Homo sapiens: one gene and its partners. The protein of the gene in region 2 purifies or fractionates together with the protein of the main gene of each other region. This does not show direct contact. Each region holds a gene or a part of one and is shown on either strand. Other genes may lie near its edges.

Evidence for each region.
Region 1: the proteins of SEC63 (region 2) and TMEM154 purify together in Homo sapiens (co-immunoprecipitation; one large-scale study listed by IntAct). This does not show direct contact.
Region 3: the proteins of SEC63 (region 2) and STEAP2 fractionate together in Homo sapiens (co-fractionation; one large-scale study listed by BioGRID). This does not show direct contact.
Region 4: the proteins of SEC63 (region 2) and EXOC1 purify together in Homo sapiens (co-immunoprecipitation; one large-scale study listed by IntAct). This does not show direct contact.
Region 5: the proteins of SEC63 (region 2) and YME1L1 purify together in Homo sapiens (affinity purification with mass spectrometry, with the first as the bait; one large-scale study listed by BioGRID). This does not show direct contact.
Region 6: the proteins of SEC63 (region 2) and ABCD3 purify together in Homo sapiens (affinity purification with mass spectrometry, with the first as the bait; one large-scale study listed by BioGRID). This does not show direct contact.
Region 7: the proteins of SEC63 (region 2) and GDPD5 purify together in Homo sapiens (co-immunoprecipitation; one large-scale study listed by IntAct). This does not show direct contact.

What each region holds. Positions count from the first base shown.
Region 1 is NC_000004.12:152,673,498-152,676,997, forward strand, and holds part of TMEM154 (transmembrane protein 154 precursor), read right to left. Parts: intron 1-3,500.
Region 2 is NC_000006.12:107,902,709-107,906,208, reverse strand, and holds part of SEC63 (translocation protein SEC63 homolog), read left to right. Parts: intron 1-1,487; coding exon 1,488-1,580; intron 1,581-3,210; coding exon 3,211-3,365; intron 3,366-3,500. UniProt on the Homo sapiens protein: Mediates cotranslational and post-translational transport of certain precursor polypeptides across endoplasmic reticulum (ER). Proposed to play an auxiliary role in recognition of precursors with short and apolar signal peptides.
Region 3 is NC_000007.14:90,221,740-90,225,239, reverse strand, and holds part of STEAP2 (metalloreductase STEAP2), read right to left. Parts: intron 191-3,500; 5' UTR 158-190; coding exon 1-157. UniProt on the Homo sapiens protein: Integral membrane protein that functions as a NADPH-dependent ferric-chelate reductase, using NADPH from one side of the membrane to reduce a Fe(3+) chelate that is bound on the other side of the membrane.
Region 4 is NC_000004.12:55,874,148-55,877,647, reverse strand, and holds part of EXOC1 (exocyst complex component 1), read right to left. Parts: intron 1-3,500.
Region 5 is NC_000010.11:27,130,385-27,133,884, forward strand, and holds part of YME1L1 (ATP-dependent zinc metalloprotease YME1L1), read right to left. Parts: intron 1,558-3,500; coding exon 1,475-1,557; intron 1-1,474. UniProt on the Homo sapiens protein: ATP-dependent metalloprotease that catalyzes the degradation of folded and unfolded proteins with a suitable degron sequence in the mitochondrial intermembrane region.
Region 6 is NC_000001.11:94,498,389-94,501,888, reverse strand, and holds part of ABCD3 (ATP-binding cassette sub-family D member 3), read right to left. Parts: intron 3,288-3,500; coding exon 3,210-3,287; intron 3,107-3,209; coding exon 3,041-3,106; intron 2,945-3,040; coding exon 2,855-2,944; intron 2,395-2,854; coding exon 2,275-2,394; intron 1-2,274. UniProt on the Homo sapiens protein: Broad substrate specificity ATP-dependent transporter of the ATP-binding cassette (ABC) family that catalyzes the transport of long-chain fatty acids (LCFA)-CoA, dicarboxylic acids-CoA, long-branched-chain fatty acids-CoA and bile acids from the cytosol to the peroxisome lumen for beta-oxydation.
Region 7 is NC_000011.10:75,449,442-75,452,941, forward strand, and holds part of GDPD5 (glycerophosphodiester phosphodiesterase domain-containing protein 5), read right to left. Parts: coding exon of another isoform or gene 3,375-3,500; intron 2,891-3,374; exon of another isoform or gene 1,892-2,890; intron 1,793-1,891; exon of another isoform or gene 952-1,792; intron 543-951; coding exon 444-542; intron 170-443; coding exon 76-169; intron 1-75. UniProt on the Homo sapiens protein: Glycerophosphodiester phosphodiesterase that promotes neurite formation and drives spinal motor neuron differentiation.

The DNA of each region.
Region 1 (3,500 bases), on a different chromosome or scaffold from region 2:
ACCACATTGGTCAAGCTAGTCTCGAACTCCTGACCTCAAGTGATCCGCCTGCCTCTGCCTCCCAAAGTGCTGGGATTACAGTCCTGAGCCACCATGCCTGGTGGCATAATAATCTTTAACTGACTTTTTCATCAACATGACTTTTGATACATTTGGCTTGATACATTTGATACGTGTATCAACATGACTTTTGAGACTGATTCACCTTGATACATTTGGCTGGAATTCATTAATTTTACTTGTTATGTTGTACTCATTCTGTGACTATACTAAATATTATTTTTCCTTTTGTTGATAGACATTTAGGTTGCTTTCATTTTGTTTTGTTTTGTTTTTCATTTTTACAAACAATGCTATCATCAACAACCTCAGCCATATCTTTTGACTGCACATTTGTGAGTGAGCTAGGAGTCAATTCTTGGGATTGTGGAGCATGAACATCTTCTGCTTGTGTAATATTTCCAAATTATTCTCCAGAATGGTTGTATAGAAAAATTTCCTTTTTCATATAATCTGATAAATGCGGTAACCTGAAAATTCTCCCAATGTGCAACACCTAGAAATGTTGAATAAAACATAAAAGGCAATCTTTTAAATGCATAAAGAAATCTCAAGAAAGCAAGAAAATACCTAAGGCTTAGGAGAGATATATATTTTTAAATGCTTAGAGGAAGTTGAAATTCGGAGTTATATCTACCAATGCGCATTTCCTCAACAAAGGTGTGGGCCCAGGGAGATAACAGGCTATATAATGTTTTCAGGGAGCTCCTGTCCATTCACTGGGTCAACAGTTAAAGCTAAAATTTCAGACCATGGTATAAGAAAAAAAAGTCACTGAAATGACTTTGGCAAAGTTCAGAGTCAGGTCAGCTACCCCAGGCTGATCTTGCCATCATCCTGACACCTGTGGAACCTGGGCCCTCCTCTGATTTTCAATTTGGATTGCTCTATTCCTTTCTTCTTTCTTGAGGGCAATCAGTTCAGTCTCCTTGGTTACCTACTTCTGGCGCCTGGCTTGCTCCACTGCCGGCTCTGGTCTGCCAGCTTACCCCCTCATGGAGGCTTTGTTGCTTCCTCCTGCAGCTCTTGGAAGCTGACCTCTGATGCTTGCCACTTCCCATTCAAGGCTGGGGATTAAGCCTGAGGTCCAATCATGGGCTCCCTTAAGCACACCCCTGTCTCAGTTTCTTCCAAATCCTAGTTTGTGATAACAAGGCTGGGGGTATATTCGAAAAGAATTGGGGCTTAGAGCACTTTATAGTAGCTTGGTGACAGGATCAGATAATTTGGGGTTCTGTTAAGTAGGGTGAGCCATCCTCGGTGTACCAGGTTCTGCTCTCAGGGCCCCCACGATTTCCATCAAGAATGGGAGGCAAGGCCAGGTGCGGTGGCTCATGCCTGTAATCCCAACACACTGGGAAGCCGAGGTGAGTGGATCACCTGAAGTCAGGAGTTCAAGACCAGCCTGGCCAACATAGTGAAACCCTGTCTGTACTAAAAATACAAAAATCAGCCAGGTGTGGTGGCATGCGCCTATAATCCCAGCTACTGGGGAGGGTGAGGCAGGAGAATCGGCTTGAACCCAGGAAGTGGAGGTTGCAGTGAGCCGAGATCACACCACTGTGCTCCAGCCTGGGCAGCAGAGCGAGGCTCCATCTCAAAAAAAAAAAAAAAAAAAAAGAATGTGAGGCAACAGATATGACAAGCGGCAAGATTATGTCTACACAAACTTTAGCTAAAAGTTACCAAATAGATAATAAGATGTTTAAAATAATGACATAAAAGAAGGAATAAATAACACAAGGGAAAAAAACCCAAAGCACAATGTGTATAAAAAAAGAACACATAGGCCAGGTGAGGTGGCTCATGCCTGTAATCTTAGCACTTTGGGAGGCCGAGGAGGGTGGATCTCCTGCGGTCGCGAGTTTGAGACCAGCCTGACCAACATGGAGAAACCCCATCTCTACTAAAAATACAAAATTAGCCGGGTGTGCTGGCACATGCCTGTAATCCCAGCTACTCGGGAGGCTGAGGCAGGAGAATCGCTTGAACCCACAAGGCAGAGGTTGCGGTGAGCCAAGATCGTGCCATTGCACTCCAGCCTGGGCAACGAGAGTGAAACTCTGTCTCAAAAAGAAAAAAAAAAAACAAATTTTCTAGAAATGCCAAATAATGATGACTAAAATTAAAAGCCCAATGGATGGCTTGACCGTCAAGATAGACAAGGTGATTGCACTAATCTACCCTCGGACCAGTAGTGCAGAGTTCCTGTCTCTCCATATCTTTGCCAACATTTGAGAGTGGTACAAACTACATACGAATAGGCAAGCTGCAGTTTGCATTGCTTCATTACAGAATTGAGCCCATCCCAGTCAATATCTTCCCTCTTATGGTTTCCTGGGATTCCAAATTTCAGACACAGAAGGACTTTAAAGCTCATCCTCTCTGTCTGTTTTTTGGGGGAGTCCCTTAGAGTATTTGGTCGTAATGGCCAGTTCTCAGTAGGGCTCTCCCACAGTGACTGCCTGACATAAGGCTGTTCTTCTCCTCGCTGGTTCCCACACCCTGAAGCCTCTTACCCAGTGACTTCAACATTCTGTTTTTCCTGCTTCTAGTCTTAAATCCCCAGATTCTCTTGTGCTCACTCTGCACCTCTTTCAGCCCCTCCCTTCCTCCTCAGCAGTCTGAGTTTTAACCCAACTCTCATCATTCCTCTTCCTCTCAGCCAGTCTCTGACCCAGTGCAAACAAATGCAGCTCTATAATTGACATGCAGCCACCGCAAAGCCTAGCCAAGAGTTCTGTGCTGCACCTACAGCTGGAAAGGTTCAACAACCACAGTTTTCTAAACCCAAAACTAAACGAGTAGCCTGGCAGAGCTTGGAAACCCAGAGGTAGTATGGAGTATGGTTAGAGAATGGACTCCTGAGGCAGAATCTTACTTAGATTCACTAATTAGCTGTGTGACCTTGGGCAAGTCACTTAGCCTCTCTGTGCCTCAGTTTTCTCAAATGTAAAAACAGGGATAATAGTGCCCACCTTATAAGGTTGTTCTGAGAATTAAATGAGTTAGTGAATGTAGCATTTAGAATAGTGCCTGACCTATAATGAGTTCTATATATGTTAGCTACTATTGTTATTAATACTTGAAATTGGGACTGTCCCAGGAAACAGCAGATGTCAGCCGTGTTCATTAAAATAAGATATGAGATACCACAGTGTCAGAATGTGTAGCCTTACTTACATAGCTAGTATTTTCTACTATTCTTTCTCTCCTTGTCAAGATTCATCCAATACTTATATAATTCTTATTCTTCTGAACCAGCCCAGAAAATCTCCCATTCCTCTCTGTTTGGCCACCAAAACAGTCACAGCATCCTTGTTTCTGCCTCATGGCCTTCAGCTCTCCCTTCTGCAACAATTCTGCTTTTAGCAACTAACAAATCCCATGCTTTTGGTATTTAGGAAATTGCTTTTGGTTTTCTGATAGTATTAAGCTGA
Region 2 (3,500 bases):
GGCAGAGCAAGTGTCTTCACATGGCCAGAGCAGGAGGAAGAGAGAGATGGGGGAGATGCCACACGTTTTTAAACAACCAGGTCTTGTGAGAAGTGTATCTCGAGAACAGCACCAAAGGGAGAACTCCACCCCCCTGATCCAATCACCTTCCACCAGGCCCCACCTCCAGCATTGGGGATTACCATTCAACATGAGATTTGGGTGGGGACACAGACCCAAACCATAGCATGGTGGTGCGGTGTGTTTTGTTGCTGTTCTTTTTTGGCCAAATAATTGCTCAAGGACTTTTTAAAAAAGAAATGTATATGCTACATAATTACTTCACAAATGGTTTGAAGATCTAAGTAAGTCAGACGTTTTGGCAAGTGTTAAAATTTAGTGTTTCAAGGTGAGAGAATGCTCTGTATAAGAAATGTTTAGTTAATTGCAGATCATACAAAAGTTCCTAATAATTTTTTTAAAGGACTTTGTAAGTTTTTGGAGGGAGCAAAATGGATTTCACAACAACCAACACCTCTCACCTCCCCATCTACAAGCTTCCTCCGACAGTGGTTACCAATAATGTCTGTTTTATAGTTATTTAAAGCTTCATAAGTACTTGAAGCCATGTATTCTGCTTAAAAGAAAAGTAGTTGATGGAGGCAACAGTGTTTCCAGGGATGTCATTAATTATCTCTTTTTCACCGACATTATTTCAGTTAAAGTTTTAAAAGACAGTTACTACCTCTAGGAAATAAATGTTCTTTTTGAATGATATCCTACCATCCCCCACCTCCTTTAAGGCAGTAATGCAGTTAAATGCTTCCGAAAACAAGGCCATGTGACGCTTAGTAATTGGTGATAGGACAGGATGCTTATGGTGGAATGAAGGAGCACTATTTAGGCAATATCATTGGAGTTGCTTTGAAATACTCAATTAACTAGTAATTCTGTTGCTAATGTTCTGTACAGATACATAAGCATCTCCATTTTTACTTACCTGTAAGAAGCAGGAAACAAATCATTGTTGAGTACCAAATCCATAGGTTAATGTGGTCTTAATAGTTAACTATTATATGCAGTATAAATGAAAGAGTCTTTCTCTTTCTGTAAGTTGCCCTCTTCTTCTCTTCTACGTCTCTTATCTCTCCCCCTGTATTTAGCTGACATATTTATTTTGACATATTTAGTTGATCTGCCTGCCTCAGCCTCCCAAAGTGCTGGGATTATAGGCGTGAGCCACCATGCCCAGCTGGGAGTTGGTTTATTAAGCCTAACATTATGATATTAAAAATTTGTCTTTGAAACGTCTAATCTGAGCTAGGGTTTTATGGCTGATTTTTGACATAGTGATACTGAGGAGAAACTCTTCCATTCAATCTGTAAAATTCTGAGATCATGTGAAATATTTGTGGCATAACTTTAATATTAGTTTTGGGCCACAGTGATAAAGATGCTTTAACTGTAAAATTAAAATGATCTGTTTCAGGTTTTTTATTGTTTTGCAGATCAGCAATTCATGCTAAAAAAGTGTCCTGCCCTACTTCAAGAAATGGTTAATGTAATCTGCCAACTAATAGTAATGGCCCGGAACCGTGAAGGTGAGGAGGAAATATAGTTAATTATGTTATACTTTTTCTTGCAAGCATATGCAGATTGTACTTCATATTTTAGGATTTATGGGTACTCAGACTTCTGTCGGCCAGTTCAGTGAGCTTCTTCAATTTTACTCATGTCTTTTCATATTTCTTTCCTATATTTTCTATTATTTAAAGTCTATATCACAGCTCACTGGGTTTTTTTTGTTCTTTTTTTTTTTTGAGATGGAGTCTTGCTTTGTCGCCCAGGCTGGAGTGCAGTGACAAAATCTTGGCTCTCTGCAACCTCTGCCTCCTGGGTTCAAGCGATTCTCCTGCCTCAGCCTCCTGAGCAGCTGGGATTACAGGCGCGTACCACCACACCTGGCTAATTTTTGTATTTTTGGTAGAGACAGGGTTTTACCATGTTGGCCAGGATGGTCTCCATCTCCTGACCTCGTGATCCACCTGCCTCAGCCTCCCAAAGCCCTGGTCACTGTGTTTTTGATTTTAATTCTTGTTTTTTTTTTTTTTGGAGACAGAGTCTCACTCTGTCGCCTAGGCTGGAGTGCAGTGGCGCGATCTTGGCTCACTGCAACCTCCGCCTCCCAGGGTCAAGTGATTCTCCTGCCTCAGCCTCCTGAGTAGCTGGCATTACAGGCGCATGCCACCACGCCCGGCTAATTTTTGTATTTTTAGTAGAGACGGGGTTTCATCAGGTTGGTCAGGCTGGTCTCAAACTCCTGACCTTGTGATCCACCTGCCTCAGCCTCCCAAAGTGCTGTGATTACAGGCATGATAATTTAATTATTTTATTGTTCAATTGTTTGCAAAGATTTAAAATTTCTCTTTCTTTGAATAATTTTTGAGTTAGGTCATTTTTTCTAACAGTGAATTTGAAATCTTTAACTGATATAAAAGTGATTCATATGTCATGTAATTTTTATTAATTAATTATAGACAGCATCTACCAGGGCTGGAGTCCAGTAGGGTAATCATAGCTCACTGCAGCCTCAAACTCCTGGGCTCAAGCAGTCCTTCTACCTTAGCTCTCCGAGTAGCTGGAACTACAGGTGCATACCACAGCACGGAGCTAACTTTACATTTTGTGTAGAGGTGGGATCTCACTTTGTCGCCCAGACTGGTCTGGTTTCCAACTCCTGGCTTTAAGCAATCCTCCCACTTCAGCTTCCCAAAGCCCTGGGATTACAGTCATGAGCCACATGCCTACAGGCACCTAGCCATTTTTTTTTTTTTGGTATGGAAGGAAAAGAATGAGGGAATTTCTGGTCAGTAATGGAAAGGAATGCCCTTAAAAAAGGATAGTGGTTATGGTTTGTTGTTACGGGTGATGTTGGTTCTTGTCATGGTGTCATATGTTGGTGATACTGATAATGTCTGATAATTTACTATTATTTGAGGTGAGGCAAATAATTTTTCTTTTAAATCAATGGTTGTTGCTGGAAAATGTTCATTAGATCGAGTTTGTATATTTTTAGTGTCTTCTCTGGTAACTTTTAAAGGAAAATCTTACTATGATCCTCAAATTTGAGGTGTTATGGATTTAGTGTGAATTTTGTTTTTGTGATGAATTGTATACTCCTGAACATGTAAAAAGTCCAGCCCTGTTTCTTTTTTTCCTGTTCTTTCTAAGAAAGGGAGTTTCGTGCTCCAACTTTGGCATCCCTAGAAAACTGCATGAAGCTTTCTCAGATGGCCGTTCAGGGACTTCAGCAATTTAAGTCTCCCCTTCTGCAGCTCCCTCATATTGAAGAGGACAATCTTAGACGGGTTTCTAATCATAAGAAGGTAATTCTTTGCTACTTTAAAGTCAGTTTTCAGCAGTTTGTCCTGTCACTTAAAGGTAACATGAATAAAAGTTTTCTGGAAATGGTTACTATGCATTTTTTAGATTTAGAATGTCTTAAATACTCTAAAACTTTC
Region 3 (3,500 bases), on a different chromosome or scaffold from region 2:
CGCATCTAATAAGTCGAATGGTCAAGGATTTGGCAAAATCTCCACTTCCAATCACACCTACAGTGACCTTCCTTGCATCTTTGATACCATTTATGCCATTAGGTAAAAAAGTTTCACTAAGGCTCTTAGGGCTTCCCATCATAGAGATTGATTCCATGATACGGACACTTCCAAGATCACCAAGAATATCCTAGGGGAGAGAAAATAAAATGGTCATCAGTTACCTATTACTGAACATTAAAACACTTCTAGACATTGTAATGTCCTGTCTTTCTAGAGGTAAAATATTTCACCACACTTTAACATACAGCACAGTAAGACACAATTTGTAAGCTAAAAAAGGATCACTATTCTGGTTTCTCTTCATAAATCTTTTGGCTTTTAAAAAAGCATCTCAATAGGAAAATTAACTGTCACAAAGGTGAGGTGCTAAAGTGGGGCTTCTCAAATTTTAATGTGCACACAGATCACTTCGGAATCTCGTTAAAATGTAGATTCTGATTGAGTAGTTCTGGAGGGAGGCTCAACATTCTGCATTTCTAATGAAAGCAATACCAATGCTGGTCTGAGACCCCTCTTTGAGCAGCAAGGCACTAGTGATGCAGGACAGGAAAGCCCCCAAATGGGGGCTTAGCCCAGGAGACTACTTGGCTTTGCATGGGAAAGAATTCAAGGGCGAGCTGGTGGTGTTAAACAGCAACGTTTATTGAAGCAACAGTTTACAGCAACAGCAGAGGTACTGCTCCTTGCAGAGCAGGCCTACCCCGTAGGCAGTGTGCCTAGAGTAGCAGCTCAGTGGCAGCTCTGCAGTCATATTTAAACCTACTTGATTTATATGCAAATTAAGGGGTGATTTATGCAGAAATTTCTAGGATGAGGGTGGTAATTTCTGGGTTGTTGGGCTGTTGCCATGGAAAGGGGTGGTAACTTCTAGGTGTTGCCATGGCAATAGTGAACTGACATGGCACACTGATGGGCATGTCTTATGGGGAGGTGCTTCTGCCCTGACCTCAGTTTGGTCCAGTGTCTGAACCTTGCCTCTGGATTCAAGTTCTGCCTCCTACCTCACTAGAGCACATGAAAAAAGGGACTGAGGTTTTCACTCAGAACTTTTTGGAAAAACACACTTGTAACAAGTATGATTACCCAGCTTTTGAGCAGATCAGAGGCAGCAAATCACAAATGCTGCTGGAGGCAGAGAGGACTGTGATACTAAGTGATGGCTCACAAGACAAGAGAAGAAAGAAAAACCATTTTTTAAAAAGCCATTTAAACCAAAACTGTCTAAAGTCATTTGGGGTAGAGGTTATAAAGTTCCCTATATACTTCAGTAGCTAGTGACTTTATCATTAAATGAGAGCTAGACAAATTAGCTAACAATGAATCCTGGCACTTAAATAATATCTTAAGAAAAATAGGCATCAAAATATAACAAAAGAGTAAATACCATGGACTTCTATCATTCACCCTACATCTTACAATGTATCATTGAGAAAGATAGCTTACCTATGGAAAAAGGATTAGTAACATGTTTATGATCTTAAATTATATAATATGTATGAAATCTTTTTCTTCCCCTTTGTAAAGAACATGGCTGTGCTTTGGTCAAGGACAGGCAGAGGTAAACATCCAGAGTGAGTGAGTTCAGAGCGCAAGCATATAACTTCACTTGTTACTTGTTATCATAGCCATGTAGACATAACAGAAGCTCACCACCATCGCTATGACATAGGGAAAACTCATCACTTGGCTCTAAGCCACTATTGTCTGTAAAAGGTATAATTGCCCTGTGGACACTGTAGAGGCACTCTTGTGCTCAGAGACAGAGAGTCAGAGCTGTCTGTCTTTGCAGACAGATGGGGGAGTCAGGACCCAGCTTGGCTTGCCCATGCCCAGAGAGAGAAATAGTTAAGCTGCTGACCCTGAAGGCAAGGGAGCTGTGTGTGTGGGAGCCACCAGACTAAGCAGCTGAGACAGGATGGACAGTGTGAGAAAGTTGTTGATCAGAGCTGCTGTTGAATAAAATCATCTTTCACCTGCCTACAGCCCTTCAAGTATTCTTTCTGCTCATCCACCCACGCCCTTTGGACCGCAACATGACACCCTTTCATTTGTTGGCTGCATAAACTATGATGCAGTTATTCTTCCTGGAAAAATCTCTCAAATTATTTTTTAGTTGAGAGACTAGCATCTGAAATGTTCATATTTGGAATAATTTGCTCAAGAATACAAATCAGGTTGCCATGAATTAGTGTCGAAATTGGGTCTGAAAGAAAAATACTCTTCCATTCTACCCTCATTGCACAATTTCTTCTATGCTCATAGCAGATGTGGACCATTTCAGAGGATTTAATGGACTTTACAGGCACAGGTGGAATGTTTCAAAAAAAAGTTGGGGTTTTTACTAAATGAAATTTGAAATGACTACAGCCAGGAAAATTCAACTTTTTACCCTAGAAATGAGTCACATCCAGTAACTCCAAATACATCAGTATGTTAAACTTTAGAAAGACAATAATTATAGTAATATTACTTAATGCTTATATAGGACATAATGTATTTCAGCTCTCTTGTGGTTTTTATGTATTAACTGATTGAATCCCCACAACCACCCTAAGAGACAGGTGCTAATACTGTCATACCCACTTTGTAGATGAGGAAACTGAGACCTGCAGAAGATAATTAATTTATCCAAGGACATAAAGACAGAAAATAGGGAAGCCAGGTAGTTGTCCAGCTAAGACATGTGTTATTTAGGTGCATGTAAGGAGTTTAGGAAAGGGTGTTTTTGGGGGGTTATAAGTATCAAGGTGTAACAATTACAGTTGTACTCAAAGTAGTATATTATTCCTTTTTCTTTGGTCATTTCATTGCTCCTCAGAGTTACCTAGGAGCACCCGATCCTGGGAAAGAAGAACATTTACTATTTTTAAATCAATTACATGTTTCATTTCACACCTTTCAAGATAGACCACTCCCTTGGTGTGGTCCATGCACCCAGAAAGGCAGGCAGGAGTCAGAGGTACCAGGGTAGGAAAAAAACCTGTCAATATCCATTTGGAGATGTCACTAGCTATGCTGGGAATCAGGAGTGGTTAAAAAAACCAGAAGTAATGAAATCCATGCTCACTTCATTCGAAAGTTAATGGTAATCATGAGCATTATCTAAGGGTGAAAAAGGTTGCTAGATTCACACAAGGGAATCCAAGTTTCCTATATCCCAGCCTGGAGTTCTTCTGAGTATATACTGCAGCATCTCCCAAAATATAAGAATTGCAAAATCTTTAAATCTAACACTCATGATGATCAAGACTTTTTCAAACAGAAACAAAAACAAAACAACATTAATTATCTGCTTATTTTACAAAGCAAGTTCAAATCCCTTCTGTAAATCAGAATGTGAACAGGTAAAAATTTTATTTTGCTGGGAGTTCCTTTATAGGTGACTGGTCATTCTCTTGCTGTTTTTAGAATTCACTCTTTGTCTTTTACTTTTGACA
Region 4 (3,500 bases), on a different chromosome or scaffold from region 2:
AATGAAGATGGAACGTTTTAATGAAGCTTGTCTCTCTCATACCATATTTCACAATTTACCAAGCAAATGACCTTCTTGATATAGCTTGAATTAAGAAACACAAATAGAGAAATCATTCAAAACAGTCTACATTTATGGTATTCCCATTAGAGTTTGTAATATTTAAAACAACAGATAAAAAAAAGTAGAATATAAAGTCTTAGAGCTTGGAATTGGAACCTTGGTCATCTGAGTCTTACTTCTGTCTTGGAGCAGATTCAAATTGAAAATACAATTTCCCAACAACAAGCAAAAGGCAAACCAAGACAGATTTATTTGATGTAATTTTCACTCAATCTAATTTGCCTAGATAGCCAGAAGTTATTTGTCAGCATTTTGTGAAAACTGTATTAAAATTACACAGACTGCTAGAGTTTTGGAGCTAGTTAACTCATTTCCTGATAAGGTTACCTAAAGCTAATTATGAATGTGTATCATACTAGTTGGTACACATTAGCTAAATAAGCGTCCTGAATTTAAATTCTTTTAAGTTAAAAGGGATTTCTTTCACCTAATTTATATACTGTACTATATACACAAAATAACCTAGTGGTTATGAATTTTAAAAAATTTTCTTTTAAATACAGACTATTCAGAAGGAAACATTTCTGGCCTAGAGGAAATGAGGAGTTCCTTGGTAACTGAGAAAGAAAGATGGGAGTATAAGACATGCCAAGTACAAAAACCCACATCATTATCCATGTCCCTTCTTCATAAATGTTTTCAAATCAGTCTGTTGGAAAATTTTCTTCATGTGAGAATATATCCCAATTTAAAATGGAAATTAAAAAGAAAAAAGGACCCATTATACAGAAATTACATATAAAATGGTAGAAAACAACCAATACACTTCTCAGATTCATCTTACTGATATCTACTTAGGTTAACTTGGGAAACTGAACTAGAGATGGCAGAAAAATATCACAAAATGAAACTGACCAGTTCAAAATAACAAGAACTAGAACACAGGGGCAACAGAAGTTCACAGCTACCACAGATGTTATACACAAGGTATATTAATAGGTCCATAATCCCTTTCTGTAATTCTGACAGCCAAAAAGCTCTGAAAACTCAGACTAAGCTTGGCACCAAAACAATTTTGATGGTAAAATGTGACCTGAACTGACATGGGCCTATTTATAGTGCTTAGAGTGACTATTCATATTTTTTGTTGCAAAAACATGTGCTTGGAGTGATTATATAATATACAGTATATATACTGTATTGCTTTTCTAAAATCTGAAACATTCTAAAAACACTCCTGACCCCCAGAATTCTGGATAACGGAGCGTAGACCTATGTGGATATTCTTTTCTGGGTGGCTACCTGAATATAAAACAATCACATCTTCCAAAAGAATCAATGAGGACTAAGAGCTAAAGTGTTGAAGAATGGAACAATTCTGTATTTTTAGAATGCCTGGGCTACCATATCTTTTCTGTAAGGGCTAACAATAAAGATGAACAAAATCAATAATATTAAGTAAAATACACAGGCATTACCATTGGACTATTATCTATTTCTATGTTGCCAAAGGTCAATATAAACATTCTATTACAGAAATGTTTTCTAACCAAGATGCCAGAAGGATAATCAGGATTCTACAGCATCACATGTATTAGATACTAGCCAGATATAGATATTATAGTTTTAGGTCTATAAATGTCTCCAAATTGTGTTTTATTTTTTAAAAATTTATTTTTATTAATAGAGATGGAGTCTTACTATGCTGCCCAGGTTGCCCCCAAACTCCTGGGCTCAAGTTATTGGCCCACTTCAGCCTCCCAAAGTGCTGGAATTACAGGTGTGAGCCACTGCGCCTGGCCTAAACTATGTGCCTTAATTGGTCACGCTGATTAAAGGGGAAGAATATTTGACAGACTTATATCATACAAATGTTTACCAAATAGTTTTTATTAGTAACAATGTATCGTTATCCAAAACAATCTTCCTCATTAATTTTTCTCAATGATTCAAGACTCAAAATTATTGTCTATGTTCTTCTACTACTGTTTACTCAGGCACAAATGTCAATTAACTTGTTCAAGGTAACCCAGCTAGGAGGTAGGAGAGTCAGGATTTTGAACCCAGGAAGTTTGGCTCTAGTGTCTGCACTCTTAAGCACTTTGCTATAGTGACTTTTTTAAAGAAATGATACATTGGGGTCAAAATTTGAATAAATTTTCAAGATTTGGAACTCCTTCTTTCTGTTATGGCATACTTACTTATTCTTTTCTTAAAAAAAAAATCTGAGCAAAGTTCCAACAAACCTCACAAAAATAGATCTTAATCACAAGTCTTTCTAAGCTTTTAACCAGAGATCATCAATCCGTGTTTACAAATATGCTTAAGGAAACAATTTTTGTAAAAGAAATTGAATGCTGGTGGTCTGCAATACAGGTTTTATTTTATTATAGCTTGTTTCTGTATATGTATGTTGAGAGAAAAATTTCTAAACTTAAGCATATGGTAAAAAGTTCCACAACTTCAGTTTTTTCCTGGTTGTACTTTTAGTTCAGTGCATTTCAGTTTATTTTCATTTTCTCTAAGTTATGTACATAATCAGTCTCATCATGTTGCTAAAGGCAAAAGTAGATAGAATCATGAGGTCTCTGTAGAACCAAAGGGGGAAACAAAAGGCAGAGAGTAGTTATCAAAATAAATCTTTCAAAAAACAACCAAAACAATTTTTTAAAGGACATATTCTTTATGCAAATATTTCCTCAATTTCATTAGCCTTAATTTGACTGTTTTCAATATCATAATCCTAATTAGTGTAAACTGACCAGATTCTCATTCTTGATCTTTCTAGATACAGAAATCCCTAGTAAATGTAAAAATTATGGGCAAGAGCCTATAATTTCAGGGGAAGTTGAGTGTGTAAGATCTGAAAGATCTAAAAGAAGCTAACTACTCTTTATGTAACATTACTCTCATATTATATTACAGTGATTATTATATTAAAATACACTTCAAGTTTCACTTAAGTATAGATAACACAGAAGTATTAATAGGAAAGTTGCATTACAGATAGCATGCTCTGGATCAGTCATTCCCAAATGCAAGATGTTTTTCCTGGCCTATAGCAATAAGAAAAAGTACAATGAAAGAAGTGAGTCCTTCATAAGGGTAAATGTATTAATTTTTAAAATCGGAAAGGAAATTCTTATTCTTTTAGTGCCAAAATGTCATTTTTAAAATGAAAAGATAATGAAAGTGGATAATAGTATTTCTTTTTAAAGGTCTTTATTTGGTAAAATAAAAAAATTGGTGATTTGGTCAGTCTCCGAATTTTATTTCTTTTAATTTTACTAATTTGTGAATTTTAAAAAGACTGAGAATCAATGCTTTGAAATTACTGTTATATTGTGAATAGATTATTTTCACTGGATTCTTCAGTACAATATTTGTAAATGTTGTAACTATACATTTGCTATAAACTGTATTGCATGGACTCGTTC
Region 5 (3,500 bases), on a different chromosome or scaffold from region 2:
GACTTAACATACATATAAATATAATCTCCTATTTTTAATTCTAGCTCAGACCTCTCCCATACCTCCAAAGTGGTATATCCAAGTTACTCAACACTTTCATTCGTATCTCTCACACTTAACATACCTAAAACTAAATTTCTAACCTTTGTCCCCCAGATCTGCTCCACTCACAGCCTTTTAAAACCTCACTAAAGGCCGGGCACCGTGGCTCACGCCTGTAATCCCAGCACTTTGATCTGCGTGGATCACCTGAGGTCAGGAGTTCAAGACCAGCCTGGCTAACATGGTAAAACCCTGTTTCTACTAAAAACACAAAAAATTAGCTGGGCGTGGTGGCTCGTGCCTGTAATCCCAGCTACTCTGGAGGCTGAGGCAGGAGAATCGCTTGAATCTGGGAGGTGGAGGTTGCACTGAGCCGAGATCACGCCATTGCACGCCAGCTTGGGCAACAATAGCGAAACTCCGTCTCAAAAACAAAAACAAAAATCTCAGTAAATGTCAATTCTATCCTTCTAATTGCTGAGACCAAAAATCTTGTGGCTCTTTTTGACTCCTCTTTTCTCTTACACCCTACGTTCCAATAAGAAATCCTATTAGTTCTACTTTCAAAAATGAACAAGTCAGACACCCTATTACTTGAGAGCCTTTGCTCAAACTGTTCCTTTGGTCAGAAACGTTCCTTTCTCAGATAAATGCAGTTTATTCCATCTTCTCCTTCAGATTTTATCTCAAATGTCACCTTCTCCATCAATCACACCTTGAACACTCCATTTAAAACTGTAAGCCTTCTCTCAAAACTCCCAATCCTCTTTACCCTGCTCTACTTTTTCCTCCATACACTTTTATTCTTTTAACATACTCTACTTTTTCTTACATCACATATCAGTGTCCAATTACTGCTTTTAGAGTTTAAACTCTAAGAATGCAGAGATTATTTATTCTATCCCAGCAGCTAAAATAGGGCCTAGCACTTAATACTATTAAATATTTAACAAATTAATCAACTATAAACTAGCATTTATCCATTCTATTCATTCAAGAAATATACATTGTCTAACATGTTTTAGATAGTGGAGTTACAAAGATCAGTAAGAGGTACAGGTAAAGAAGGACCATTTATTAAATATCTACTATGTGTCAAGCACATACATTATCTGTCAGGATCTAAAGTAATTTCTTCAAGGTCTCATAGCTAATAAGTATAAAAATGAATTTCAAACATTAGTCAGCTTGACTCTGAAGTCCACATTCACTCCACTACACCAGGCTGCTCCTTCATAAATTATACTATCCCCTGCCATAAAGCAAGATTTGATCCTTGGCTATTATTATTTATCCCAAAATACTAATGTTTCTAATACTTTTGGACACAATTTTACCTATTCTAGAATACACTGTAGAATCAAATATCGACCTCATATAGAGTATCAATTAGAGGATGTATGAAGAAGGCAAGGCAATCTTCTTAACTTACCCCTTTAACATGTTCAAAGGTGACATTTTTCATCTGGACAGGATCTACTGCAGAATCAAGCCCTGTTGTTGTCCGGAAGCGGACTAAAGGGAAGAAAAGAAATGTTTATATTTGATAGATTAATAACATTCCAATCACCTTGTTTTTTAGATGCAAGAAAGCAAAGCCTAGAAAAATTAAATGTCTAAGTGACCTAACTTCACATATCAAATCAGAGTGAGGAATAGAAACTAGGTCTTCTGGATTTCTTTTTTTTTCTTTTTGACAGAGTCTTGCTCTGTTACCAGGCTGGAGTGCAGCGGCACGATCTTGGCTCACTGCAACCTCAACCTCCCAGGTTCAAGCGATTCTCCTGCCTCAGCCTCCCAAGTAGCTGGGATTACAGGCATGCGCCACCAAACCCGGCTAATTTTGTATTTTTAGCAGAGACAGGGTTTTCCATGTTGGTCAGGCTGGTCTTGAACTCCTGACCTCAGGTGATCCACCCGCCTCAGCCTCCCAAAGTGCTGGGATTACAGGCGTGAGCCACTACGCCCGGCTGGTCTTCTGGATTTCTAAACCATCTTCAAAGAGTAAGTGATTCACGTTAAAAAGACATATTTCGGCTGCTCTGCCTATGGAGTAGCCATTCTTTTATTCCTTTACTTTCTTAATAAACTTGAAAAAATAAAAAATAATAAAGACTGGGCGTGGTGGCTCACACCTGTAATCCCAGCACTTTGGGAGGCTGAGGCGGGCAGATCGCAAGGTGAGGAGATCGAGACCATCTTGGCTAACGGTGAAACGCCGTCTCTACTAAAAACACAAAAAATTAGCTGGGCATGGTGGCGCAAGCCTGTAGTCCCAGCTACTCGGGAGGCTGAGGCAGTGAAATTGCTTGAACCCCAGGAGGAGGAGGTTGCAGCGAGCCAAGATTGCCCCACTGCACTCCAGCCTGGGCAACAGAGCGAGACTCCATCTCAAAAAAAATAAATGAAATAAAATAAAAAAATAAAATAAAATGACCTATTTGTACTTTTCAGTTAATAAAATCAAAAATTATTTTCTACTTCTTATTGTAGTATCTAATGATAGAAATCTTAAATCAAAGTTTCTCAAACTTTGGTGTGAATAAAACTCACTTGAGAAGTATGTTAATTCTCAGGCCACAGCACAGGGCCCAGGAGAATTTTCATTTTTAACAAACACTTCAATTATTCTAATTGGTCACAGGTCTACACTTTGAAACACATTGCCTTAAAGTTAGCAGAAAACATTGACACACATTAATAAAAAATTGAGGCTTAACACATTATTATACTTTTCATGTAGTCTTCTTCCTCTGACAACTGTTATTACTTGCCCTCAAATGACCTATCAATTATGACAACATTAAGTCTGACAAGCAAGACAGAAAAAGTCTGATAGGAGAGTAAAATATTTGAGATCAATTTTGGAGAACTATTACAAGGATTTCTTAAGTCTTTCCCACTCAGGTAGAAACTTCCAAACTAGAGCAGTTATAAATGAGTAAATTGAGCAATTTCTAATTTCCTCAGAAGAAGCCCAAAATACTGTTAAGATAGGCTGAAAAATGAGCTGGCAAAATATGGGGTTAAGGAGAAATGCTTAATAAATCAGGAACATAGAAGCTGGGAAAACAAATTTAAAATAGTAATTCTAGAATGAACACCAATAGTTTTGGCCCACAAAGTATTTTTTAAGAATCTGTACATATCCTTAATATTTAAGAGAATAGGCAACACAGGGTGAAAACTGCACAGTAGTGGAAAAGGTAATTGGAACCACGTAAGTCTGACACTATTGCTTAATTTCAGATAAGCAAACTAAAAAAAAGGGAAACATTTAATGTGATTTTATGAATAAACTGAATTTGTTTATCTTTGAAATAGAAGACTATTTCAGCTTGTATTGCCATTATAAAATTCTTCTACATAATTTTAAAATTAATTAATTAATTTTCCTTTCACCCTGTTGACCAGGATAATTTTTAAATTTTATAATTGGACAGGTATCATTTTCTAAA
Region 6 (3,500 bases), on a different chromosome or scaffold from region 2:
TAAAAAAAAAAAAGATTTACAAAAATGGATTAAAAAAACACTAAAAATTTTATAACAGTGGTATCTCTGGTAAAGGGGTTTGGCCCAATTTATACTTAAATAAATATTCCACTTTTCCATCATATATACTTTTTCATAATTCAAAATAAGAAAAGTTATTACTAAATAGGAAGAGCAAGAAAAATGGAGTGGAAAAGATAACTTTTGGTCAGAAACACAAGATATCCCAAATTGTGACATTAGCTGGAGCAACCCTGGCTGACTCACTGTTCTAAGTGGCTAGGCCTTTTAGGTCTGTTCTTCCTAAAAATTCTAATACCTACTTTCCCCTCAACTTTCTACTTTGGTAATTTTCAATCCTACCAAAAAACTGAAAGGACAGTAAAATGAATACACATATATAATCTTTACCTAATTTCACCAACGTTAGTATTTGTAGCGTTAGCCTTCTCCTTTCCACCCTCTGAAACAAAACAACAGGCTCTCTTTTACACATCACATTCAATTCTCTAGACAATGGCTTGGCCATGCTCCAGTTATATATGCAGTGGTGTCACAGGTGAGCTTTCCCCATTTCCCAAACGCCTCTATTATGGATCATGTGTTTTTTTTTTTTTTTTTTTCTTTTGAGACAGAGTCTTGCTCTGTTGCCCTGGCTAGAGTGTAGTGGCATGATCTTGGCTCACTGCAGCCTATGCCTCCCGGGTTGAAGTGATTCTCCCGCCTCAGCCCCCCACTGCTCTGGGCACGCCTTTGAATTCCTAATCTTCAAATCAAAATTATCCCTCCTGTACTTTTATACCACACACACACTGTTCCTTGGTTTAAGTACATTCATTATTCATTCTCTGAGTTTCCGTCGTGTCCATTTCTGAACCACATCCTTCCATTTTCTCTGAAGACATAGTACAGAAATTTAAAGTTATTTTGCAGCTCTTTTTTGCAGTTATTTCTATAGTCATCTTCTAAATTGACTCTAGAAATGCCTAATCATTTCAAATTTTCACTCCTTCAGCCTAATTTCCATTTTGAATATAGCTATTATCTCTCTCATTTATGATTTACTCTTCACACTAGATTCATCTCACGTTATAGCACTAGCCAGGCAAGTCACACTATTAGGTTAATATTAACCTCATGTAGAGTGGGTATGATTTTGGGAAAAACAACTTGCAAAATCAGGGACTCGGAGGTAACAAAAAGGTGGAATATAACCTGAATATAATGGGTCAGAAATTCTGCCATAAGCCAATTTCTTTTGCTTTCTTTCCTTAGCTACAGTTTTCTCTAATCTCCATACTCTGCAGGGGGAGAGGAGAATCTCTTGCTTGGATCTATTCAAACTATGAAATATATAGTTAAAAAATGACTCTTTATGAAGTTGCCCCTCTTGACAAGGTACCCAAACTACCGTTCTTTTTAAATTTTTATTTATTTATTTATTTTTAGAGAGACGATCTCCTTCTATCGCCCAGCCTGGAGTGCCACGGTGTGTGATCACAGCCCAATGCAGCCTCAAACTCCTGGGCTCAAGCAATCTTTCCGCCTCCCAGTAGCTAGGACTATAGGTGTGTGCCACTACGCCCAGATAATTTTTAAATTTTTTTTTGTAGAGAAAGGGTCTTGCTATGTTGCCCAGGCTGGTCTCATTCTTACTACGTAGTGTTTAGCGCATATTTTTGGTTTGAGACAAGTTTAGTCATCATAACAATTAAAGTAGTTTCTTTCAAATGCTTGTTTATATTAGGAAAACTTAAAAATTCTAAGTAACTTTAAGTAGTAGATACTGAACCTTGAAACAAAAACATACATATAATAGTGGAGGAAAAGGGCAAGAACAGAATAAAGATAAAATTTGAATGGATCGTTTCTAATACCTTCAGCTATTTCAGAAAGAATAGCCTGAGTGATACAAAAGAGATGTCTATAGGGAAGAGACATGAGAAGAAATTTCATAACCCAGCCAGGATTACCTTATATCCCAGGAATAATGAGCTACAGAGTTTCTCTGAACTTTTAGAAAAATGGATTATTGGTATATAGTCGGATCTGCAGCTTTTCCTTTCATAGATACTGGCAGGGTATTTATGAATTTTTCAGAATTCCAAATTTACATGCAAGTTAAAGATTTTCAAGCACTTTTATGATAATTTAAACTAATCCATACTGAAACAGCTGCTGAATAAAAAAATATAAGATGAAACTTTGTGTCCTGATTAATCAAAATGCTGGAACCAGTTGCATTCTTGTGCAACTTCTTCACAGTATACTTACCGCCATTCTTTGCTTTTCTCCACCACTGAGTACGTCCATCCAATCCTGAACACTGTCCCAGCCTCCTTCACGTTCAAGGATATGACCCAACTGGACATTGTCTAAGTATTCCTTCAGTACCTTTCAGCAAAATGATTAAAGATGAAATTAAACTTAATATAAGCCAACATTCTTAATAGTGGTTTATTTTTTAAACTGGAATCACTATAATTCTATTGTCTGTACCACTTAAAAGATACATTTCAGAAAAGAATGTGGCACAAGGTAGCCCTGAACCTTTCAGCTCCTAGTATCTACACCAAACTTGACAAAATATGTCTAGTAGCTTAAAGAGAATAACACTATTGTACACAGTAAAAGGATGATGGCAATGAGAAAACAAACAATGGTGTAAAGGTTAAGATTAAACTCTTTTTAAGCCAAGGGATTAACATCTTACCTCAGCTTAGAAAATCACAATTTACAGCTTTGGAAGGCTTTACAGCTTAAGATAAACTACCTGGCATTTAAAATACTTAATTGATTAAAATAAATAATCTGGAGTATTTTCAGTGGATCTAGGATATAAACATTCCCTTACTAGGTCAGAAATTCCCTTCCTTTTCTGATCTTCTCGTCCATCTGGATATATCACTTGATCTCGAAGTGTTCCAAGGGTCATGTAAGGTCTCTGACAGTAGTAGAGCAAAAGTCAATTAGAAGCAACATGAAAAAATAAATAAACAAAAAGATCTTTAGATCAAAGATAACTCAAGCTAGGTCTTACCTGAGGAACATAAAATAATTTTCCTCTTTCAGGTTTAGTTAGACGTCCTCCAAAAAGAGGCCATAACTATTAAAGAGAGAGAAGGGAGAAGAACAATTGTAAAATTTACAAAGTGGTAGACAGTATGGCAAAATAAGACTGCAAAATTTTGAGGCCAACTTGTACTTACTTCACCAAGAACACGGAAAAGTGAACTCTTTCCGCAGCCATTTGGACCACAAATTAGAACATTAGCCCCAGATCGAACCTGAAAAAAAAAAAAAAATCAGTCTGTGAAGTAATTAAATCAAATTAACATATACTTAATCAACATTTCCTTAGACTCAAATATTAATAGCTCCTGGCTAATTATAAGCCTTCTATTTGTCTGTAAATGTAGCATTAGGTAGAGCAGTGAAGAGGTATTGTGAAGGGACCTTTTACTTTGTTTACTTCCAATTTTTACCATTACTTTTTTTTC
Region 7 (3,500 bases), on a different chromosome or scaffold from region 2:
CCAGGTCGGGGCAGCACCAGCTGGTCTTGGCACCTGCAGGGATTGGAGGGGCAGGCCCTTCACAGTTCTACTCACAGGTCCGCTCTGCGCGGGCGAACTGTCCTGCCACGATCCAGGAGAGCATGGTGACTGCTGCCACAGCCCCCACATGCAGGAATGGCGCTGTGCCCTGTTTGCAGGGAGAGGGAAGGGAGACCAGTAACGCCCAGCTCTGCCCAGACCCTGTGTCACCAGCCTCCTACTTCTACCTATGAGGCAGGCAACCCTGTCTCCATCTGCCAACTGGGGACACTGGGAGCCTCAGGACCCTGGTGTCCTCCCTAGTTCTGACCTGCTCTGTGACCCTGGGCGCCTCCCTGCCCTTCTTTGGGCCTTGGTCTGGAGAAAGGGAAGTGACAGAAAGGCTCTTGTTGTGAGGGTCCTGGGGGACCCTCCTCACTCACCTGCAGGGAGATCAGCAGCACCTCCCACTCGTCCTCCCACAGCTGGGCCACGGCCGACATGGCCACCACCGTGGAAGCCAGGATGACCACCAGCCCGATCTGGAGGGGGAAGAGTCACCGGACAGAGGCTCAGAGCGGGTGGGAGGGTTCCCAGTGTGTCTGAGAGAGGAGCCAGAGGGAGAGACAGAGAGGGCAGGAGAGGCCGATGGAGCAGGGCAGAGGGGAGGGAGGAAAGAGACAGGCATGGGCTGCCAGGAAACTAGAGGCCGGCAGATAGACACGGCAGGGAGAGACTGAGGCAGGAGGAGGCAGCAGGAGGCCGGCAGACCCAGCGAGGAAGGGACAGCGAGAAATGGAAGGGAGGATGGGGACAGGAGGAGGAGGGAACTGTGAGGAGGGAGGACATTCAGTAAGGGGGACCTCCCTGGGCCTGGCAGGTTAGTCACATCCAAGGTCCCGCCCAGCCTCCCTGCCACCTCAGCATGGCACAGCAGAGGAGGAAACCCACTTGTCCAGGCCATGCCCAGGCCTCAGGGGAAGGAGGCTGAGGAACTGGGTCTGCTGCAGGAGCCTGGAGTGCAGCCCAGCCTGGCACCCTGGGCTGGGCTCACAGTGGCACTTCAGGCGGGAGTGGGTGGTGAAACACATCGCCACCTGCCCCATCTCCACGGCCTGCCCTCTCCCGGACTCCCAGCATCTAGGTCCGCCGTGATGGGGGCCATCCTCCTTGCAGCCTCCAGAAGAAAGCAAAGCACAGCTCTCATGGAGGATGAGGTGGCACCTCTACGGGACAGAGATCTCTGGTGACAGGTAAGACCTGAAATCTTTAACCACGTGAAGCTCGGCAGAGGTTTTCGGCTCCTCGGCCCCCAGCCCCTCGCCCCTAGCCGTGGATCTCACTCCACCCACCCCCCTCCACACCCCCAGGCGTGCCTCCCCGAAGCCCAGGTTGTGGCTCTCCTCCAAAGCCTCCCGCAGATCCCAGTCTCTGGAAGGGTCAGTCAAAGCCGCCACCTCCGTCCCCCTAGTTTCTCCAGACTCGTCTCCCATCTCCCTCCAAAGGCCTGTCCTTCTCCCACAGCACTGCCGGCCGCCCTGCCTCCCTGGAGCCGTTCTAGCTGCTGGCAGGGCCTTCACCCCCTTTCTCCCGAGGCAACCTTTCCCAGAGGCAGCAGCGGCCAGGGCCCTCTGATGCCGAGCAGGGACAGTGGCATTTCTAGACGATGAGGGTGGGGCGGTGGCCAGCATCTCCGCTCCCTACCCAGGGACCTTCACTCGCCGGCGGGGAATGCTGAGTCTCGCCTGGGATGAAGTTTCCCTTTGGAGGCTTTTCATTCCAGCCCATCAGCCTGGAAACAAATGTTCCCCCAAGAGACCTGAGCGAGGCAGGTGAGGAGCTGGAAGGGCTGTGACATGGGGGCTCGGGGCGGGAAGAGGCATGGGCGTGCCTGGGCCTGTGGGGGCGCTTCGCGTGGTCCCCAGGTTGGTTCCGCGGAGGCACGAGCATCCTCATCTCACACACGGGAAGCGAGGTTCGGGGAGAGGAACAGCTGGCTGGGTCACGGAGCTTTGAAGGGGCAGAACCAGAAACGAACACCTTCTGCCCATCTCAGGGGGTAAGGGGGTGTGCGCTTTCTCGGACAGACAGCACGCTGGTGTCAGAGAGGCTGCGCAGTCTCTGGGAGGCCCAGCTGCGCCTCCGAACCCCTGAGAACCCCGCCCTCGGCACTCAGGCCCCTTCTCCCGGCTGCCCCCGGCGCGCAGCTCCCCCTTGTGGCCATCGTGGGAGGTGGCCCTGCACACAGTGAGTTAAGGATGGTTTCCAGGAGCATCTCATCACAATACCTATTAATGGAAACGACTTGCAATAAAACTGATTCCCCAAACCCTAATACAATTAAAAATGTTATTATCTCTGAGTTCCACAGTTGCTTTGGTGCTAATCAACACACTCAGCAGCATCACTGCATGTTCAGTGTCTGTGGGACTTCCCTACCTTGCATCATTAAGTTATAGCAATAGCACTGACACCCAAAAACGCAACCACCATCGCTCCTGAAATCTGACTGAGAAGGATGAATCCCACCCTAGAGGCCCAGAGACAGATCACCGTCCTCCTCTGAGAAAGTGGCCTTGGGTTCTCTGTCTTCATGGGACTGTGGCTTGTGATAGCCATGGTGGGTACAGGGGATACAACAGAGTCTTTCATTCATTCGATGAGTCTGGCCTAGGTGCCGGGACCCGAGAGGAGGTGGAACCCCGCCTTGCAGAGGTGCAACAGCTGGCCTCTTAGGGGTATCTGGCCTCTGGGTTTTGCAGTCCAAATGGCAGACAGCTGGCCCAGGGTTAAGAGCCTCACTTGAATCACGGTCTTCAGTCGAATCCTGGCTCTGCTACCTACTGGGGATCTTTCCACATCCTCTCCAGGGACCTTTCCAGAGCTGTGAAATAGGGATAGTGAGTACCTACCTGGAAGGGGGTTGGGGAAGATCAGTGAGGAAATGCAAGTGAAATGCTTAGTACAACGGCTGGCCAGAAGAAAATGCTTACTAAATCTCAGTGATATCATTTTAAAAAGTGAGCATGATATGGGAACAGGATTATTGTGAGGAGTGAAATGACTGTGAAATTCTGAGTGAAAGGTGCCTGACACATGTGGTCAGCACCCAATAAAGGATGGTTACTGCTGTTATGGTGAACGCAGTGCCTGGCACACACAGGAGGTGCTCAGTGAATGCGCCTTCCTTAAGCTGCTGCTGGAGGGACAGAGGCTGGACACCAGGAAAAACCATAAAGCTGGGGCCAGTGCATGGAGAGAAGTCTGAATTCACCAGGAGAGGTGATGAAGTAGACATAGCAGATGGCAGGTAGAGGCTGATGGAGCCTTGGTAGGAGGCAGAAGCCCCAGCCCCAGCCCAGCCAGTAACTTGCCTTGGGGCTGTGTGGTACCCAGTGCTCCTCTCTGGGGCTCAGGTTGGGTCGCTGACAGACGCCTCCTCTGTGCAGGTCCTGGGCTGGGGGCTGCTGCCACTGAGGCAGGGGAGTCAGGCGAGGACA